2 linked regions of the Homo sapiens genome follow. The protein of the gene in region 2 binds, or shares a complex with, the protein of the main gene of each other region. Each region holds a gene or a part of one and is shown on either strand. Other genes may lie near its edges. A codon is read from its position in the direction of its gene.

Region 1 (7,042 bases), on a different chromosome or scaffold from region 2:
CCCAGGCTGGAGTGCAGTGGCGGGATGTAGGCTAAATGCAAGCTCCGCCTCCTGGGTTCACACCATTATCCTGCCTCAGCCTCCCGAGTAGCCGGGACTACAGGCGCCCGCCACCACACCCGGCTGATTTGTTTTTATATTTTTAGCAGAGGCAGGGTTTCACCGTGTTAGCCAGGATGGTCTTGATCTTCTGACCTCGTGATGTGCCCGCCTCAGCCTCCCAAAGTGCTGGATTACAAGGTTGAGATATTTAACAAAGTATTAATGCAAAAAGAAAATCTTGGACAATACCTCAAAGTTTAAAAAAATTTAATTTCACGTTAATGGAGGCAGGGAAGCAAAGAAAATAAAAGGCAACACAGACGCCATGGAAATGTGATTATGTAAGCCATTTACAGTTTTAAAAGAAAATCCACACTTACTGAGTACTGTGTACTATGTCCAACAAACGATACGATATACCAATAGAAAAAAAAGAGACATAATCTAAGTCCACATCAACTTAAAAATTTAGAAATGGAGGGTAGACAAATACATAACTATTTTACAAGGAGGAGGCTGGCTGTGGTGGCTCATGCCTGTAATCAGCACACTTTGGGTGGCTGATGCGTGCGCGCAGATCACTTGAGGCCAGGAGTTCAAGACCAGCCGGGCCACCATGGCAAAACCTATTAAAAACACAAAAAATTAGGCCGGGTGCAGTGGCTCAAGCCTGTAATCCCAGCACTTTGGGAGGCAGAAGCGGGCGGATCACGTGGTTAGGAGATCGAGACCATCCTGGCTAACACAGTGAAACCCCGTCTCTACTAAAAATACAAAAAAATTAGCCGGGAGCAGTGGCAGGTGCCTGTAGTCCCAGCTACTTGGGAGGATGAGGCAGGAGAATGGTGTGAACCCAGGAGGCGGAGCCTGCAGTGAGCCGAGATCACGCCACTGCAGTCCAGCCTGGGCAACAGAGCAAGACTCCGTCTAAAAACACACACACACACACACACACACACACACACACACACACACACAAAATTAGCCGGGCATGGTGGCGTATGCCTGTAATCCCAGCTACTCAGGAGGCTGAGGCAGAAGAATCCCTTGAACCTGGGAGGCGGAGGTTGCAGTGAGGTGAAACTGTGCCAATGCACTCCAGCCTGGGCAAGAGAGCACAAAAACAAAAGAAGAAGAAGAATGAAGTGCTATTCCAAATAAAGTATTTCAGGGACCCAGAAGGAGGAGCAATTAAAGGGAAAGTCAAATTTGAACTAATCTCAATGGATAAGGAGAAAACAAAACACACTTCAGGTTTAAGCAGAAGCATGAGCAAAGGCATGCGAGTGACTTTAAACTGGAGCTACACGTGGGACAGCTAGACTGGAGTCTGACAAGGAAAGGTGCAACCACCAGTATTAGCTAAATAGCCACAGCTTCTTCAGTTACGATCCCTATCTGGACAAACTCAACTAGCCATTTAGAATGTTTTTACATTGGCTGGGCGCAGTGGCTCACGCCTGTAATCCCAGCACTCTGGGAGGCTGAGGCAGGTGGATCACCTGAGGTCAGGAGTTCGAGACCAGCCTGACCAAGATGGTGAAAACCTGTCTCTACTAAAAATGCAAAAAAAAAAAAAAATTCAGTCAAGCGCAGTGAAGCATGCCTATAATAGTCAACATTAAAGTTCCAATGTATCAGTTAATCCCCTTTCCTCAAACTTTGAAAGGCTTTCACTTAAAAACCCTACTTTGCTTAAGCAGTTGTCCTCAAACAAACCAAAAAAAAACACATACAAAAACCAAAAGGGGCCGGGCGCGGTGGCTCACGCCTGTAATCCCAGCACTTTGGGAGGCCGAGGAGGGCAGATCACGAGGTCAGGAGATCGAGACCATCCTGGCTAACACAGGGAAACCCCATCTCTATTAAAAATACAAAAAATAGGCCGGGCGCGGTGGCTCACACCTGTAATCCCAGCACTTTGGGAGGCCGAGGCGGGTGGATCACGAGGTCAGGAGATCGAGACCATCCTGGCTAACACGGTGAAACCCCATCTCTACTAAAAATACCAAAAATTAGCCGGGCGTGGTGGCGGGCGCCTGTAGTCCCAGCTACTCGGGAGGCTGAGGCAGGAGAATGGCGTGAACCCGGGAGGCAGAGCTTGCAGTGAGCCGAGATCGCGCTACTGCACTCCAGCCTGGGGGACATAGCGAGACTCCGTCTCAAAAAAAAAAAAAAAAAAATACAAAAAATTAACCGGGCGTGGTGGCGGGTGCCTGTAGTACCAGCTACTTGGGAGGCTGAGGCGAGAGAATCGCCTGAACCCAGGAGGCTGAGCTTTCAGTGAGCTGAGATCACGCCACTGTACTCCAGCCACAGCAGCAGAGTGAGACTCCGTCAAAATAAAAAAAAAAAGCAAAAAAACCATTTTGCTACTGCAATATTTACTGTAAAAATTTAAAATAGGCTGGGTGCAGTGGCTCACGCCTGTAATCTCGGCACTTTGGGAGGCCGAGGTGGCTGGATCACTTAAGGTGAGGTGTCCAAGACCAGCCTGGCCAACACTGTGAAAACCCATCTCTACATAAAAATACAAAAATTAGCTGGGTATGGTGGCGGGCGTCTGTAATCCCAGCTACCTGGGAGGCTGAAGCAGGAGAATCGCTTGAAACCGGGAGGCAGAGGTTGCAGTGAGCTGAGATTGCACCACTGCACTCCAGCCTGGGAAACACAGCGAGACTCTCCTCTCGGGGGAAAAAAAAAAAGAAAAAGACAATAGCAAAAAACAACAACAACAACAAAATGCCAACCTACAGAAGAGGAGAAAATACTCACAAACCATTTACTTGCTAAGAGGTTACTATCTGGAATAATGAACTCTCAACACTTAACAAACGAAAAAAACATGAATTCAAAAATGGGCAAAAGGGCCTGGTGCAGTGGCTCAGGCCTGTATTCTCAGCATTTTGGGAGGCTAAGGCAAGAGGATTACTTGAGGCCAGGATTTCAAGACCAGCTTCGGCAACACAGCCAGACCCTGCCTCTACAAAACAAAACAACAAAAAAAAATTTTTTTTTTGAGACGGAGTCTCGCTCTGTCGCCCAGGCTGGAGTGCAGTGGCGTGATCTTGGCTCACTGCAAGTTCCGCCTCCCAGGTTCACGCCATTCTCCTGCCTCAGCCTCCCGAGTAGCTGGGACTACAGGCGCCCGCCACCACGCCCGGCTGATTTTTTGTATTTTTAGTAGAGACGGGGTTTCACCACGTTAGCCACGATGGTCTCGATCTCCTGACCTCGTGATCTGCCCTCCTCGGCCTCCCAAAGTGCTGGGATTACAGGCGTGAGCCACTGCACGCAGCCCAAAAAAAATTTAAAAATTGGCCGGGCGCAGTGGCTCATGCCTGTAATCCCAGCACTTTGGGAGGGAGGCTGAGGTCAGGAGTTTGAGACCAGCCTAACCAAGATAGTGAAACCTCGTCTCTACTAAAAATGCCCCCAAAAATTAGCCAAGCATGGTGGCACATGCCTGTAATCCCAGCTACTTGAGAGGCTGAAGCACCAGAATCGCTTGAATCTGGGAGGTGGAGGTTGCAGTGAGCTGCGATCGCACCACTGTACTCCAGCCTGGCCAGCAGAGCGAGACTCCATCTTAAAAAAAAAAAAAAAAAAGGGCTGGCCAAGCACAGTGGCTCACACCTGTAATCCCAGAACTTTGGGAGGCCGAGGCGGGCAGATCACACGAGGTCAGGAGTTCGAGACTAGCCTGGCCAACACTGTGAAACCCCATCCCTACTAAAAATACAAAAAATTAGCCAGGCATGGTGGCAGGCGCCTATAATCCCAGCTACTTTGGATGCTGAGGCAGGAGAATCGCTTGAACCTGGAAGGCAGAGGTTGCAGTGGGCCAAGATCACGCCACTGCACTCCAGCCTGGGTGACAGTGCCAGGCTCTCCCTCAAAAAAAAGAAAAAAGAAAAAAAAAAGGAAAAGAAAAGGCCAGGTATGGTGGCATCCACCTCTAGTGACAGCTACTTGGAAGGCTCAGGTAGGCGAATCGGCTGAGCCCAGGAAGCCAAGGCTGCAGTGAGCTATGAGTGCACAACTGCAGAGACAGAACAAGATCCTGTCCGGAAAAAAAAGTTACCCACAGAATTTTCAGTCCCAATTCCACCTCAAGGTGAAGTTAAATACAAGGACTCAAGCAAATACTTAGTGCACCCATTTTCATAGCAGCATTGTACTCACCATAGGGAAAAGGTGGAAACCCACTGACCACCAAAAGTTTAATGACTAAACAATGTGTGCAAAATACATAAAATGAATTGTGTAAATTCAGTCACTAAAAGGACTGAAGCTCTGATCCATGCTTTTACATGGATAAAAACATTACGCTAGATGAAATAAAGACAGCCACAAAAGGACAAATATTATATGATCCCACTTACATGAGGTATCTAGAATGGGCCAAATTCATAGTGACAACGTAAAATAAAAGTTACTAGCAGCTAGGGAGAGGGGAAATGAAGTTATTGATTGTTTAATGGCTATAATTCGCTTTGTGTGGGGTGAAGAGAAAGTTTTCAAATAGTGGTGATTACACAACACTGTCAATGTATTCGGTGCCACTAAATTGTTGTGTGTGTGTGTGTGTGTGTGTGTGTGTGTGTGTGTGTGTGTAAAAGTCTCGCTTTGTCGCCCAGGCGAGAGGGAGAGGGAGACGGGGAGAGAGAGGGAGACGGGGAGGGGGAGGGGGGGAGGAGGGGGAGGGGGGGAGAGAGGGGGAGAGAGAGAGAGAGAGATTTGAAAAAAAGTCTCACTGTGTCACCCAGGCTACAGTGTACTGGTGCAATCGAGGCTCACCGCAACCTCTGCCTCCTGGGTTCAAACAATTCTCCTGTCTCAGCCTCCCGAGTAACTGGGATTGCAGGCATGCACCACCACACCCGGCTAATTTTGTATTTTTAATAGAGACAGAGTTTCACCATGTTGGTCAGGTTGGTATCGAACTCCTGATCTCAGGTGACCCACCCACCTCAGCCTCCCAAAGTGCTGGGATTACAGGCGTGAGCCACTGCACCCAGGCTATCACAACTTTTTAAAAGTAAAAAGTTATGTACGTATAAATATTCCTTACATATTTATCTACATTATCAAAAACTGGGAACAAGCTGAAGTATAAATGGGGGAACAGTTTAACACACATTAGTAAGACTGAAACTTGTTTATGCTAAAACAGAAAATATAAAATTATGTTTGCTACGAGAGTAACTATTAAAAACATGCCCATAGAAACAGAACACTGGCTGGGTGTGGTGACTCATGCTTGTAATCTCAGCACTTTGGGAGGCGAAGGCGGGCGGATCACTTGAGGTCAGGAGTTCCAGACCAGCCTAGCCAAAATGGTGAAAACACCGTCTCTACTAAAAATACAAAAAAAATTAGTTGGGCATGGTGGCAGGCCCCTGTAACTCCAGTTACTCAGGAGGCTGAGACAGGAGAATCACTTGAACCCAGGAGGTGAAGGCTGCAGTGATCTGAGATGGCGCCACTGCACTCTAGCCTGGGAGACAGAGTGAGACATGGTCTCAAATTTAAAAAAAGACTGAAAACTAATATAACAAAAATTAAAATAATTCTAATTCCTCTCATTTCCTTCCTCTACTCATTTTAACATGTTAGATTTCAATCTACCAGCAACAAAAATATCCCACATCAAAATAATTATGCTGACTGCTATGCTAGTGGGTTGAGACAGGTCTGTTTTAATACTATCCAAAGTAGTTTCAGTAAGAGCCAAAAGAATTACTATGCAGCCAAGTCTACAAAGACAGGCCCAAGAAACAACACGGAAAACCCAAACAGCGCCCCCCTTAACTTTCACGCTGAGCGCTGCTGTTCTTCCCCACAACTTACCTGCAGGCACGGTCAGGGGAATTAAGAATTTCGTAGTAGAATACGGAAAAATTGAGAGCAAGACCTAAGCGAATAGGATGCGTTGGTGGAAGTTCTGTCATTGCAATATCACTAGCAGCTTTATAAGCCACTAGGCTGTTCTCCGCAGCCTCCTTCCTGTCGTTTCCTGTGGCAAATTCTGCCAGATACCTGTGGTAGTCCCCTTTCCTAAAACAAAACCAAAATTAAAAAAAAAAAAAAAATTTAAACTAGGAACGATTTTTAAAGGAAAATAAGCTAAAATTGTTCTATATTATATAAAATGTGACAAAAATATATGTAACAATTAGGTGTACTTCAATAATTTTAAACACTCTCAGGAATAACTGGCTTCGTTTCATTTTTTTCCTTAGACATTTCATATTACTAAATATAAGCAAAAATCCCAGGAAATTAACTGAGGAGCCTCTAAAAATTAATAAAATTATCACCTGATAGACCAGAATTAAACAAGCAAGTGGTTCCAAGGAATGGCATGACAGTTTATTAATCATAAAATAAAATGTCTATATATAACACTAAGCACTGTGAAATGTATGCCGTTTGGGGGAGGGGAATGGGATAGGTCTCACAAAAACAAAAGAATATAAATAAGCAAAAGCTAATACATTTTCATAATAGCCCAACCACCTTTTCATTACAATATTAACTATCCTTCTAACATTGAACAATTATTCTTAAATAAAAGTTGAAAACCTACATAGAACAAAGTTATGGTTCTAAAAGGACCAACTTTCAATCTTACATTTTCCCTTCTAGTATAGAACCTACATTTTATAATAGAAAACCTTGGACTCGCCAGTGTTAGCTGCTGGAATGAGGTGTTTGTCCAGTACATCCAGAATGTCACAACAGATTAACTTTAGCTCAGTCTCAACCTAAAAAAAAAAAAATTTTTTTTAAATCAGATTAAGTCTAGAAATTCTACAAATTATTACATATTCTATCTCTGGTTTTGAGGTAGAGAGCTTAGTATTAAAAAGAATTTGTATCCCTCTCCAAACTCCCTTCTTCCTTCTTGACACAAAAGCAGAGAAAAGCTGCCTCTAGGTTATAAAAAGTATCTTTTCCCTTCTGCATGCTGCCTATTGTTACACACACACATGCA
Region 2 (7,600 bases):
GGGAGTCTGGGTGCTGCTGACAGGGTCCCATGTCTGCCCTGCCTGTCTCTGAGGGCTCCGAGAAAAGCCAGGGAGTCTTGGCTTTGGAAGTGAGACTAATAAAGTGCTTTAGCCCCACCCCAGTCCTCACTGACAGATGGGGAAATTGAGGCACAGAGCGGCAACAGATGGAGAAACCGAGGCACGGAGCGGTGACAGGTGGGGAAACTGAGGCACAGTGGGCATGAAGTCTCAAACCCCACCCGCCCGGGAAGGCACAGGGAGAAGCTTGTGCTTTTTCAGGATGGAAGTGGACGGAACTAGGATGCAGAAGACCCGGCCAAGAGCAGTCTCCCACTCGCCACAGCCCAGTGTCACTCTCTGGGCCTCGGTTCCCCCATTTGAACCTGGGACTAAGGTTCCTTTATTTCCCTGCCCTTCGGGGGCAGAACAGAGGCCTGTCAGGGACTGTGAGGCGGCCCTCTCTCCATGCCTGGTTTCAAGGCAGCTGGAGGGTGAGGGGGGCTCTAAGCTGTGGGACTCTCCCGTGGGGACTGATTTCCCGTTCTCTCCTACAGCAAAGGCAGGTGAAACTATTGTCCTGTAGGCCTCAGAGTCCCCGTCCAGGAGAGCCGCCTCTTCCCTGTGCAATGCTCTGAGTGCCTGACATGAACCAGGTGCAACCTCCAAGGTTTCCATGAACCCTGACTCATTTATGGGGTGCACTCGGGGGAGGGCAGGGGAGACCCCAGCTGAGAGGCCCTCCCTGCTCAGGCAGCCAAGACCCAGCTAAAGTAACACCCATCTCCTTGGTGGCTGGAAACCTAAGAGGGGACCCCTAAAACCAGGACCAGACCAAGCCATCCTCACGCCCCATGTCTGGGTGGCTTCTGACCAAGCCTGACTTGACTTCCCCTCCCAGACGGAGCTAGGACAGCACTCGGGGTGCCCCAGCCCATGCCGGCACCCTCGTGGATCTCTCACCCCCATCTTCTGGACAGGGACACGCGTTTGGGGTGTCTCTCTCTCTCCCACATCCCCCGACAAGCCGGCATCTTTTCCAGGTGATTCCTGAGCCCTGCGTATGAACTTCCTCCTGTTTTCCTCCACAAGACAGAGGCACAATTCCCACATGTGAGCTTTTGCTTGTGGAGCCAAGGGAAGCTGGAGGCTCAGGTCTCCGGCTTCCATTGCTGTGTGGCCTGGGGCAAGTCACTGCCCCTCTCTGTGCCTCGGTTTGTTTGTCTGTAATTTGGAAGCTAATAGTCCTGCAATAGGCTGGGCATGGTGGCTCACGTCTGTAATCCCAGCACTTTGGGAGGCCGAGGCGGGTGGATCACCTGTGGTCAGGAGTTCGAGACCAGCCTCGCCAACATGGCGAAACCCCATCTTTTCGAAAATACAAAAATTTGCTGGGCGTGGTGGCGGCCACCTGTAATCCCAGCTACTCAGGGGGCTGAGGCAGGAGAATCGCTTGAACCGGGGAGGGGAAGGTTACAGTGAGCCGAGATCGCACCACTGAACTCCAGCCTGGCTACAGAGTGAGACCCTGTCTCAAACAAACAAAACACAGGCATTTTTCTCCAAAAGGCCGATGTCATGTAAAAATCCATCAGCATACGGCATCCCTGCCCTGCCCCGTACTGGGTGATGCTGGGGATCCAGAGAAAATGTGGCCCCAGCTCCCATGGCTCAATAAGGGCTTCTCAAATGAAAGGACAGCTGTAGGATCTGGAGGGGCCTGATCCAGAGGCCACACCACGCTACCAACATTTTTTTTTTTTTTGAAGACAGAGTTTCACCCAGGCTGGAGTGCACGATCTCAGCTCACTGCAACCTCTGCCTCCCGGGTTCAAGCGATTCTCCTGCCTCAGCCTCCCGAGTAACTGGGATTACAGGTGCAGGCTACCATGCCTGGCTAATTTTGTGTTTTTAGTAGAGACGGGGTTTCACCATCTTGGCTAGGATGGTCTCGATCTCCCGACCTCAGGTGATCTGCCTGCCTCAGCCTCCCAAAGTGCTGGGATTACAGGCATGAGCCACTACGCCCAGCCTTTTTTTTTTTTTTTTTAAACGGAGTCTTGCTCTGTCACCCAGGCTGGAGTGCAGTGGTGCAATCTCATCTCACTGCAACCTCCGCCTCCCGGGTTCAAGCGATTCTCCTGCCTCAGCCTCCAGAGTAGCTGGGATCACAGGCACCCACCTCCATGCCCGAATAATTTTTTTTTTTTTTTTGTATTTTTAGTAGAGATGGGGTTTCAGCATGTTGGCCAGGCTGGTCTCAAACTCCTGACCTCAGGTGATCCACCAGCCTCAGCCTCCCAAAGGGCTGGGATTACAGGCATGAGCCACCACACCTGGCCTATCAATATTTTAAATAAAGACAGGATCTGATCTGCACTTGTTTAACCCTGCTTCTCTTTGCCTTACCCTGCTCCTCCACCCGGGTTCCAATAAAACTTTATTGACAAAAACAGAGGCTCGGCCCATAGTTTGCCGGTTAGGTTTTGTGAAACATTCAGTAAAATGATGTTTATCTTGATTACTGAGGTGCATGTTTGTCTGTTTTTGCATTGTTTTATTATTTATTATTGATTTATTTTTGTGATAGGGTCTCACTCTGTTGCCCAGGCTGGAGTTCAGTGTTATGATCATAGCTCCCTGCAGCCTCGACCTCCTGGACTCAAGCAATGCCCCCACCTCAGCCTTCTGAGTAGCTGGGACCACAGGCACACGCCACTGTGCCAGGCTCATGTTTTATTTTTTGTAGAGATGGGGTCTCACTGTGTTGCCCAGGATGGTACCAAACTCCTGGGCTCAAGTGATCCACCCACCTCAGCCTCTCAAAGTGCTGGGATTACAGGCATGTGCCCAGCCTTTGCATCATTTTAAACTCTGTGGCGGGCGCAGTGGCTCACGCCTGTAATCCCAGCATTTTGGGAGGCTGAGGCGGGCAGGTCACCTGAGGTCAGGAGTTCGAGACCAGGCTGGCCAACACGGTGAAACCCCAACTCTACTAAAAATAATAATAATAATACAAAAATTAGCCAGGTGTGGTGGTGCACGCCTGTAGTACCAGCTACTTGGGAGCCTGAGGCAGGAGAATTGCTTGAACCCGGGAGGCGGAGGTTGCAGTCAGCCAAGATTGCGCCACTGCACTGCAGCCTGGACAACAGAGTGAGACTCCATCTCAAAAATAAATAAATAAAATAAAAATTAACCAGGCATGGTGGTGCACACCAGTGGTCCCAGCTACTCAGGAGGCTGAGGTGGGAGAATCACTTGAGCCCAGGAGGCGGAGGCTGCAGTGAGCTATGATCACACCACGGCACTCCAGCCTAGGGGACGGAGCTAGACCCTGCCTCAAAGAAAAAAAAGTGTGGCATGGGACCCACTCAAGGGAAGTTCATAAGAAAAATGTAGTCTCCTTCCCCTCCTGCCCCTTCTCAGGGGATTGGGGGAGGCCAGGGGGACTCAGCAGTGGCTCTGTGGACCTCTGCTCCCAGCCTCGAGCTGCTGCGTGACCCTGGATGGAGCCCCTACTCTTTCTGGGCCCATTTTCCCTAAGGGAAACGGGATCGGGGATCCCACATAAAATACACTCAATCCTTGCAGCAAAAACATCTTTGGGGCCGGGCAGGGTGGCTCACACCTGTGATCCTAGCACTTTGGGAGGCCGAGGAGGGAGGATCGCCCCAGGAGCTCGTTCCAGGCTGCAGTGAGCTGGGATTGCACCACTGCGCTCCAGCCTGGGCAACAGTGTGAGACCCTGTCTCCAAAGAAAAAGACAGTTTTGACAGGCACGCAGTTCAGCTGGAATTTCACCCCGCGTCTGCTTTTCCTTGGGTTTTTTCCATTCTTGATTTTTCCATTTATGGTGATTTTATCTAAAACGTCTTTTCTAAATAAATGCATCGAGGCAGTGAGGAAGGGGGAAGGGGGAAAACGAGCCGATTCCATCTTTTCAAAGAAAAATCCAGCAGGCGTGGCTGTTAGCAGGCGGGATGTGGGAGCCACTCTTCTTTCTTCGCCGGAGCACGGAGAGGGTGGGGATTTGCCCGCAGTCACACAGCGAGGCGCGGCAGAGCCGGGAGGGTCCTCGCCCACGCTCCACATTCGGGGGCCCTGGGATGGGGCAGGGGGCCGCTGGGGGCTCCTCAGATGCTGCCGCAGGAGGGGAGGTGGTTCCCGGGGAAGTGAAACCCACAGACCCCACTTGCACCTTCTCCAGGGACAGCCGCCACCGTGTTCTGTGCGCTCCCCTACGGTGGGCCAGCTCTGCCCCTCTCTCCCCATCTCACAGGGCTCCCCACTGCCCCGCACCCCAGCCTGGCCTCTGAGGCTGTGGGGGGCCTTCCACTGCCCCCACCCGGCTGTCAGCCCTGGGGCTATTGACTTTCAGATCCCACCTCCTGGTCTCTGTCCAGGCTGTTCCCTCCCGGTTACATCCTGTCCTCTGCGGGCGGGCAGGGGAGGCGGCGGCCTCGGCTGCTGGGGAAGTGTTGCAGAAATGTCCCCTCCCCACCCCGGGCTGCGGTCTGACAGTGGGCCGGACGTTTTCCTGTCAGCTGCCGGCGCCAGGTCAGACCCCTCCTGCGAGGCCAGGGGCTGTGGCCATTGGGAGTTTGTCCCCACGGACCCCTCCTCCCCCAGAGGGCACGCCAGTCTTGAAGGTAGGGGGCTCCTGGAGCGGGGAGCTGGACAGAAGCGGCCACTTTTTGAGGTTGGGATCTGGGCGGGGGTGGGTCGAGGCCTGGCTGCCGGCAGCAACCGCACGGCTGAGCCCTCGGGGATGAGGCCTGAGTGTGGATCCCTGGGTCCCTGGACACTGTCTCCCCCGCAACTGACCCCCAAAGGCCTGTCCTCAGGCTGAACACTCTGTCCCCATCCCAAACGTGCAGAGGGGGGTCCTTCCCACTGCCTGGAAAATTGATGGGTGACAGACCTGCCTCATGATTGAGGAAGTGGGCCCAGAGAGGGCAGGAAACCCACTCGGGATCACACAGCAGGGCCCCAGAGAGGGCAGGAAACCCACTCAGAATCACACAGCAGGGGCCCAGAGAGAGTAGGAAACCCACTCGGGATCACACAGCAGGGCCCCAGAGAGGGCAGGAAACCCACTCGGGATCACACAGCAGGGCCCCAGAGAGGGCAGGAAACCCACTCGGGATCACACATCAGGGGCCCAGAGAGGGCAGCAAACCCACTCAGGATCACACAGCAGGGCCCCAGAGAGGGCAGCAAACCCACTCAGAATCACACAGCAGGGGCCCAGAGAGAGTAGGAAACCCACTCGGGATCACACAGCAGGGCCCCAGAGAGGGCAGGAAACCCACTCAGAATCACACAGCAGGGGCCCAGAGAGAGTAGGAAACCCACTCGGGATCACACAGCAGGGCCCCAGAGAGGGCAGGAAACCCACTCGGGATCACACATCAGGGGCCCAGAGAGGGCAGCAAACCCACTCAGGATCACACAGCAGGGCCCCAGAGAGGGCAGCAAACCCACTCAGAATCACACAGCAGGGGCCCAGAGAGAGTAGGAAACCCACTCGGGATCACACAGCAGGGGCCCAGAGAGGACAGGAAACCCACTCGGGATCACACAGCAGGGGCCCAGAGAGGACAGGAAACCCACTCGGGATCACACAGCAGGGTCAAAACTGGACAAGGGAGTGGAGTGTGGGTGCGCCTGTTCTCACCAAGGGCCCTGGAGCAGGAGGCCTCGACGGTCTCCCAGGCCCCAGCACTCACGGACCCCTCCCCATGTCGCCCTGTGCGTGCACACGGTCACCCCACACACGCCCCGTTTGACCTTTCCCCAGCAACATGAGCAGCCCGGAGCCCCCCACAGAGCCCCCCGAGCCCGACAACCCCACCTGGTCGACTCAGCCCACGTATAGCAACCTTGGTAAGCAGCTCCCCAGGGAGCCCTGGGCTGCGGGGGTGCAGGGAGCGGCAGGGGGGTGCAGGGAGCGGCAGGTGGGTGCAGGGAGCGGCAGGAGGTTGCCGGGCACCATGGCCTCTGGGAACAGCAGCAGCTGGTAAAATGAGTGACCTCCGGGAAGGCCCGGAGTAGGCCAGGGCTGAAAAATAACCTGTGGGTTGGTGGGCGGGGCGTGGTGGCTCACGCCTGTAATCCCAGCACCTTGGGAGGCTGAGGCAGGTGGATCCCTTGAGGCCAGGAGTTCAAGACCGGCCTGGGCAATATAATGAGACCCGCCCCCCATCTCTACAAAACAAAAAAAATGAGATGGACATGGTGTCAAGAGCCTGCAGTCCCAGCTGCTCGGGAAGCTGAGGTGGGAGGATCCCTTGAGCCCAGGAGGTCAAGGCTGCAGTGAGCCATGAAATAGAAAAAAATATATACCATTAAAAAGAGAGAGAGGCTGGGCACGGTAACTCATGCCTGTAATCCCACCCTTTAATCCCAGCACTTTGGGAGGCCAAGGAGGAGGATCACTTGAGGCCAGGAGTTCAAGACCAGCCTGGCCAACATGGCAAAACCTGTCTCTGCTAAAAATACAAAAATTAGCCAGACATGGTGGTGCATGCCTGTAATTCCAGCTACTCGGGAGGCTGAGGCAGGAGAATCGCTTGAACCTGTGAGGCAGAGGGTGCAGTGAGCCAAGACTGAGCCACCGCACTCCAGCCTGGGCGACAGAGGGAGACTCCATCTCAAAAAAAAAAAAAAAAAAAAAAAAAAAGGCCAGGTGCAATGGTTCAAGCCTGTAATCCCAGCACTTTGGGAGGCCGAGTCAGGCAGATCACCTGAGGTCAGGAGTTTGAAACCAGCCTGGCTAACATGGTGAAACCCCATCTCTACTAAAAATACAAAAATTAGCTGGGCATAGTGGCGGGCGGGCACCTGTAGTCCCAGCTACTTGGGAGGCTGAGGTAGGAGAATCGCTTGAACCTAGGAGGCGGAGGTTGCAGTGAGCCGAGATCGTGCCACTGCACTCCAGGCTGGGCGACAGAGCAAGACTTCAAAAAAGAAAAAAAGCAAGACAGACGCTTGTGCAAAGCCACGGAGGTAAGTGGGAGTCGCTGAGTGCTGGGTGGCATCACTCTCTGAAACTGATCCATCCTCCTATAAGCCTCAGTTTCCCCTTCTGTAAGCTCTGCCGCCCAGGCTGGAGTGCAGTGGCACAATCTCGGTTCACTGCAAGCTCCACTTCTCAAGTTCACACAATTTTCCTGCCTCAGCCTCCCGAGTAGCTGGGACCACAGGCGCCCACCACCAAGCCCGGCTAATTTTTTGTATTTTTAGTAAAGACGGGGTTTCACCGTGTTAGCCAGGATGGTCTCGATCTCCTGACCTCGTGATCCACCCATCTCGGCCTCCCAAAGTGCTGGAATTACAGGCATGAGCCATTGTGCATGGCCGCGTCCGGCAAATTTTTAAAAAATTTTTGCAGAGACAGGGTCTCACTATGTTGCCCAGGCTGGTCTCAAACCCTAGGTTCCAGTGATCCTCCTGCCTCGGCTTCCACCTTCCTAAGTGCTGGGATTACAAGCATGAGCCACCGGCGCCCAGCCTCATTACTTCCATGTTAGAGATGGGGAAACCGAGGCTGAGAGGTGGAGTCACGTGTCCCGTTCCCACTCCGCCTGTCCTCAAC

Evidence for each region. The genes of interacting proteins can lie anywhere in the genome.
Region 1: the proteins of PEAK3 (region 2) and YWHAE are in contact, whole or in part, in a cryo-EM structure (PDB 8DP5), measured with the Homo sapiens proteins. Residues at the interface, in NP_940934.1 of Homo sapiens: Gln144, Arg147, Arg154, Ser223, Leu224, Ser225, Pro226, His227, Lys293, Phe294, Ala297, Trp298, Pro339, Pro342, Thr460; in NP_006752.1 of Homo sapiens: Asn113 (codon at 6,740), Thr114 (codon at 6,737), Gly115 (codon at 6,734), Lys118 (codon at 6,725), Tyr122 (codon at 6,713), Asn147 (codon at 6,035), Ala154 (codon at 6,014), Asp157 (codon at 6,005), Ile158 (codon at 6,002), Met160 (codon at 5,996), Thr161 (codon at 5,993), Glu162 (codon at 5,990), Arg193, Lys196, Ala197, Asp200, Asp201.

The regions. Positions count from the first base shown.
Region 1 is NC_000017.11:1,355,197-1,362,238, forward strand, and holds part of YWHAE (14-3-3 protein epsilon), read right to left. Parts: intron 6,813-7,042; coding exon 6,706-6,812; intron 6,103-6,705; coding exon 5,896-6,102; intron 1-5,895. UniProt on the Homo sapiens protein: Adapter protein implicated in the regulation of a large spectrum of both general and specialized signaling pathways. Binds to a large number of partners, usually by recognition of a phosphoserine or phosphothreonine motif.
Region 2 is NC_000019.10:2,279,139-2,286,738, reverse strand, and holds the start of PEAK3 (protein PEAK3), read left to right. Parts: upstream 1-4,563; 5' UTR 4,564-4,652; intron 4,653-5,803; 5' UTR 5,804-5,807; coding exon 5,808-5,889; intron 5,890-7,600.